Linked DNA regions of Homo sapiens: region 2 is linked to region 1. Evidence: fine-mapped QTL for protein levels in blood plasma. A gene starts in region 1. The other region holds a variant in brackets. All regions are shown on one strand. Distances are between the middles of the regions.

Region 1 (2,906 bases):
CCAGTGGAGTCGCCCTGGGGAAACCGAGGCACTTCAGTTCCTTTTCATCAAGGAACTGATTAAAGTGTGGTCTATTATCTCTGTAGTGGGGAGTCCCGAAAGATTCCACTTCTTCCTCTTCTTGCCCAATGAGAGGGTCAGGAAGCTTCCACCACCATCCTGACTGTGGCCACCACATCCTGGTGTGAAGCACCACCAGCTTCCTCCACAAGAACTCTGAAGGTCACCAGCCAGCTTGAGTCCTCCGAAGGTGCTGTGGCTCAACCAGCAGCCTGTGTAGCAGAGAGCACAAGACCTGGGACTCGAACTCAGTCCCACCTTCAAGAGGGATCTCCACCACTTTCTGAGCCTCAGTTTTCACATCTTTGGTTAGGGGCAGGTGGGAAGTTGCCATATTTACCTTGTTGGGCTCTTTGGAAAAATTAAATGAAATGTTAATGTATGTTACACAACGGGCTCATAGGAGGGATTCAAAAGCTGCTAGTTCTTTTTCTCCTTTTCCTGAAAACGGTATTAAAGAGTACTGTAGAGACACTGGAGAATTCCTGCTTCATATGAGATGTCCTTGGTCTCTCCCGGGGAATTTGAAGACCCAGAGACTCGCAGCTCCCCGTGAGCCTCCCCGCTGACGCCTTACCTCCCCCTCTCCACCATCCCCTGCCATCCCGGTGTACGCCACCCCCAAAAAAACTTTCAGCCAGCTCCTCGGTGAGGGTCGTTCCAAATCGTGGCCGACAGTAGCGGGCTGCACCCTCCTTAGATCGCGTCGTGGCCAGCCTCAGCTGCAGAACCCCGCCGGGCGCCCGGGAGCCCTGTCCCGCCGCGGCGGCCTCAGAGTCCGGGCACTTGGGGATTCTCTGAGGGTGCAGCCCTCCTGGGCCCCTCCGACTGCGGAGCTGCCGACCGCAATGCAGATGCGGGCCCTCCAGCCCTTCTCGCGCCGCCTTCCTCCCGCCAGCCCCGGAGCTGCCGGGTCCGCGCCGCCCCGGGGAGCGCTCCTCTCCCGCCCTGAGCGCAGGCCGGCTTCCCCATCGGCGCGCCGGTCCGGAGCCAGGGTCCAGCGCGCTCCAGACGCCTCTGCCTTCCCCTCCCCCTGTCGGCCGCCCCTCGGTCCCTGGGGGTGGGGTTTCCCTTTGCGCTCGCCCCCTCCCGCCCCCACCCCTCACGGGCCCTCCCCTCCCCCGCCCGTCCCTATGTATGTGTCACAGCGCGCCATGCCCGCCCGCCCGCCCACCTACCTCCCCGCCGCTCCAGAGGGGGCTCGCAGAGCTGAGGACGCGCGCAGCGCTGCTCAAGGTCTCTCTCTCTCAGCACCCTCGCCGGCCGGCGTCTGACGCGGGTGCCAGGGTCTCCGGGCACCTTTCAGTGTCCATTCCCTCAGCCAGCCAGGACTCCGCAACCCAGCAGTTGCCGCTGCGGCCACAGCCCGAGGGGACCTGCGGACAGGACGCCGGCAGGAGGAGGGGTGCGCAGCGCCCGCGCAGAGCGTCTCCCTCGCTACGCAGCGAGACCCGGGCCTCCCGGCCCCAGGAGCCCCCAGCTGCCTCGCCAGGTGTGTGGGACTGAAGTTCTTGGAGAAGGGAGTCCAACTCTTCAAGGTAACTGTCTCCTTCCCTCCAGAGCGAGGCTCTCCCAGGGCGCCCGGCGAGCCAGGAACGGGACTGAGACTGCACGCCCCGGGGCTGGGGGCTGCACTGCCTTGGTCTCCGCCCTAGAGCTATGTGTGCCGGGGGCGCAGCACATCCACCGGCTGCGTCCGCGGTGGAGTTGAGCAAACTTTTTGGCTGTTGCAGACTCAGTGAATGGGGCAAAGGAACACGTGAGGAGGGGCACTTGTCTCCTAGTCCGCCAGGATGAAGGAACAAGGGAGCCTTTTCTCCAAACACCTAGGTGATTTTAAATCCTAGGGTCTGGAAAGACCCATGGTTGACAGAGTAGCAGCTTCAGAGTCAAGGGAATGTGGGTTCAAATCCCCGAGGTGCTACTTTTGAGCTGGAAGGTGTGCTTCACCTTCCTGAGCCTTGGCCTGCCGTCTGTCAGCTGAGAGGGAAAAGGCCTTCGCGGGGTCTGGAAGAATAAATGAAATCATATGGACACTATGTCAGGGACACAGCGGGTCCTAAGCCGAGGCTAGATAGTCCATCCTTGGCCACTTGGCTTACTCCAGGGACCAGAGTGCCTGAAGAGTCTGCCCAGGGGAGAGTGGCAGAACCTGGGACAGAGCTACTGAACTGCCAGCAGGGGAGAGGAGAGCAGTGCCCTGAACACACGGGTGTCCAACCAAGAAGGGGCATTTCTCAAGGAAGAAAGGGGAGGGGAGTTGAGGACACACGACCACGAGCGGTTTTTCCGTCTGTGGGTTCCTCTTCAAACGAAGCCAATGCTGGTGGAGCAGGAGCCCTTTCCAACCCTGGGGCTGGGTTGGAGGCTGTCAGTATGTCAACTGAACCACACTCTGGGCAGAGCAAGCTGCGGGGGTGGGGGCTTGTCTCTGGTTGTGAGACAGGATCCAACCCAAACTTTTCCATCATTATCCTCCTTTCAGTCATGAGCTGGGTTCTGACAGGATCCTACTAGGGTTTCACCATGAAGAAGCTGGAGTTCCAGCATGTTGACTGATGTGTAAATTCTGGTTCTGTGGGGCTGGCTGCCAGGAGGAAAATACAAAGCTGAATTGGGTTAGCACGGTGTTTTGGGGTCCTGGGTGCTGCAGTGGGTGGGTGTCTGACAGTTTAGAGGGGACTCTGGACCTTGAAAATTCACCCACCTCGTCTGAAGAGGAGGGCAAGTGGACCCAGAAAGGTGCAATGAATTTCTGAAGGTTGAACTGTGACTTAGGGTCAAGGGCAGAACTAGAATCCAGGTTTTCTGAGGCCATAGTCGGTCCCTCGTCCTGATTTAAGAGT
Region 2 (2,906 bases), 42 kb after region 1:
CAAAGCTCTGTCACCTACTACTGTGCAACCCTGGCAAAGTCAAGGCTGTGAACCTCACTCTTCTCATCTGTCTAGTGAGGAGATGGGGTGCCCGCCTGCAAAGACGTTGGGGGTCTGACATGTGACCCTGGCACCCATGGGAGGGTGCTGCTATCTGCCTTTTTAAATTGAATATGTCTAAAAGGAGGGTCAAAATGGGTTTTGTTGTGTTTTGTTTTTTTGTTTTTCTTTGAGACAGGGTCTCACTCTGTCATCAAGGCAAGAGTTCAGTGGTGTAATCATAGCTTACTGCAGCCTTAGCCTCCTGGGCTCAAGCAATCCTCCTGCCTCAGCCTCCCATGCAACTGGGAATACAGGCACCACCATGCTTTGCTTTTTTTTTTTTTTTTTTTTGGTAGAGATGGGGTCTTGTCATGTTGCCCAGGCTGGGCAAAATGTCATTTTACTTTATTATTATTATTATTATTGTTGAGACAGAATCTCACTCTGTCACCCAGGCTGGAGTGCAGTGGTGCTATTTCAGCTCATTGCAACCTCCATCTCCCAGGTTCAAACGATTCTTCTGCCTCAGCCTCCCAGGTAGATTGGGATTACAGGTGTGCACCATCATGCCCAGCTAATTTTGTATTTTTAGTAGAGATGGGTTTCACCATGTTGACCAGGCTGGTCTTGAACTCCTGACCTCAGGTGATCCACCCACCTCAGCCTCCCAAAGTGCTGGGCTTGCATGCGTGAGCCACCACGCCCGGCCACAAAATGTTATTGAAAAGAGTAGGGGAAAGTTTGATGGGGACTTTATTTTGAAAAATTAGACCAAAATGTTCAAATAAGTTTTTATCTTACATTTAACACATTTTGGGTTATAATTATAATTACATGCTAATTCTTGGAGGAAAAAACAATGCCTCACATGAATGAGGAGTTGCAAAACTTTTATGTACTAAGTGGTGATAACACAATGACAACTCATTACACGTTTCATTTCCACAACCTGATCTTACAGGAAGAGGGTTAATAGCTGGGATTTCCCCCTCGAAGCCTCTCTTAACCTTTTGGTATTCTAACCACTCTTTTGGAAGTAGTATCACTCTCATGGTACCCTCATTTTTCCATGACTATGAGACAGGCAGTTCTCCAAAGCCACCTTCATCAACTTCACAAACTGCACTTTCTGCAAGATTTTCTGATTTCTCCTTATAACTGACTTACCTGGTCCTGTTGGATAGTTACAGCATCAGATGGTTGGTAAGGTGCTCATGAGACGAGTGAAGCAGCAGCTGTGTTGAGCAGGAAGGGCTGTTGGGGTGGGAACTGATCTTTATGAGCCGTCAGCTCATTGGTCAATATCTTGCCCTCTGATAGCTCTTGCACTCTTGCAATCTTGAAACTGTGGGGACTCCTACAATGAATGCCGATAGCTGAGTACCCCTGAAATGGGCTTGGCAAGGTGCCTGGCACACAGTGGTGCCCTCCTGCCCCAGCAGGGAAGGAGGGGGAGCCATGCTCATCTCCAGCCCACTCCTCATCCCCCTCAAGCCGGTCCCAGGCTGAGAGGCTAAAGCTTGTCTTTGCCCCTCCCCTAGGTGAAGACTTTGTGGACATCCCAGAAAACTTCTTTGGAGTGGGGGGTGAGGAGGACATCACCGTCCAGACAGTGACCTGGCCTGACATGGAGCTGCCACTGCCTCGAAACATCACTGAGGGTGAAGCCCGAGGCAGCGTGATCCTTACCGTAAAGCCCATCTTCGAGGTCTCCCCCAGTCCCCTGGAACCCGAGGAGCCCTTCACGTTTGCCCCTGAAATAGGGGCCACTGCCTTCGCTGAGGTTGAGAATGAGACTGGAGAGGCCACCAGGCCCTGGGGCTTTCCCACACCTGGCCTGGGCCCTGCCACGGCA[T/C]TCACCAGTGAGGACCTCGTCGTGCAGGTGACCGCTGTCCCTGGGCAGCCGCATTTGCCAGGGGGTAAGTAGCTGCCCGTGGGTGCATCCAGGGGCAGGTGGAGAGAACTTGGCCTGCAGGGAAGGGATTCCCGCAGTTGAAGGCTGTACCTTCTACTTAACCTGGCACGTGGGACAATGTTCTCTCCTCTCAGACCTTATTCTCCTCATCTGTGGAACAAAAACAATAGGCCAGACTAGTCAGGTCCACACTCTTGCCACCAGGGATTTATTTCAAATGAGGTCATATGTGGAATCCAGTCTCTGTATCAAGCAGGCACATGTGCCACATAGTTCTAAGGGAAGTAGCGTGGAGAACAACTGGGCTCCTTCTGTCCAGGGCCCCTCCTTGCCCCATCAGACACCCCAACAAAACAGAGCCACTAGAAAACCACTGCCTTGGATGACCCCTGAGGCCTCTCACTGCTCTGACCTCCCAGGACAAAGGCCAGCAAACTGTGGCCAGTGGGCTGGGTTTAGCTGTTCTCATATGGCCCATGACTTAAGAATGATTTTTACATTCTTAAATAGTTAGGGGCAAAAAGTCAAAAGAAAAATAATATTTTGTGACACATGAAAATTATATAAAATTCAAATTTCAATGTCCACAAATAAAGTTTGATTGGAACAAAGCCATAGCCATCTGTGGACAAGTTGTCTATGACTAACTGAGGACAATCACAGCGAGGTTGAATACAGTCAGTCTTTCATGTCTGGATTCAACCAACCGTAGATGGAAAATATTCCAAAAGAAAAGAAACAATAACAACAATACAACAATAAAAGTAATACAGATTTAAAACAATACAATATAACCACTACTTACATAGCATTGACGTTGTATCAGGTTTTATAGGTAATCTAGAGATGCTTTTATACAAATACTACACTTGTATATCAGGGACTTGAGACTCTGCAGATTTTGGTATCTGAGGAGATCCTGGATCCCGAAGGATAACTGTAGTTGTAA

Which allele goes with the higher level. Alleles are on the strand shown, and positions count from the first base shown. The strength of an association depends on the size of the effect and on how common the allele is.
For the plasma level of the protein whose gene starts at base 1,225 in region 1, allele T in region 2 goes with a higher level than allele C (weak association).

The links. PIP is the posterior inclusion probability: the model's chance that the variant is causal. The UK Biobank Pharma Proteomics Project read protein levels with antibody pairs (Olink). The fine-mapping took linkage between variants from a reference panel, not from the people measured, so its PIPs are less certain.
Region 2: its variant is fine-mapped to the plasma level of the ACAN protein (UK Biobank, PIP above 0.99). The variant lies in the coding sequence of ACAN. If it changes the protein, the assay may bind it differently, which can mimic a change of level.

Annotation. Positions count from the first base shown.
Region 1 is chr15:88,802,212-88,805,117 of GRCh38, forward strand. It overlaps ACAN (aggrecan), which reads left to right and starts at 1,225. Exons shown (of 19, transcript NM_001369268.1): 1 at 1,225-1,598. It overlaps LOC105370960 (a long non-coding RNA gene), which reads right to left and starts at 1,307. Exons shown (of 3, transcript XR_001751648.1): 1 at 1,239-1,307.
Region 2 is chr15:88,843,922-88,846,827 of GRCh38, forward strand. It overlaps ACAN (aggrecan), which reads left to right. Exons shown (of 19, transcript NM_001369268.1): 7 at 1,584-1,961. Among named protein-coding and RNA genes, the nearest start is that of ACAN, 42 kb to the left of the region's middle. The variant T/C (reference allele first, on the strand shown) is at 1,898.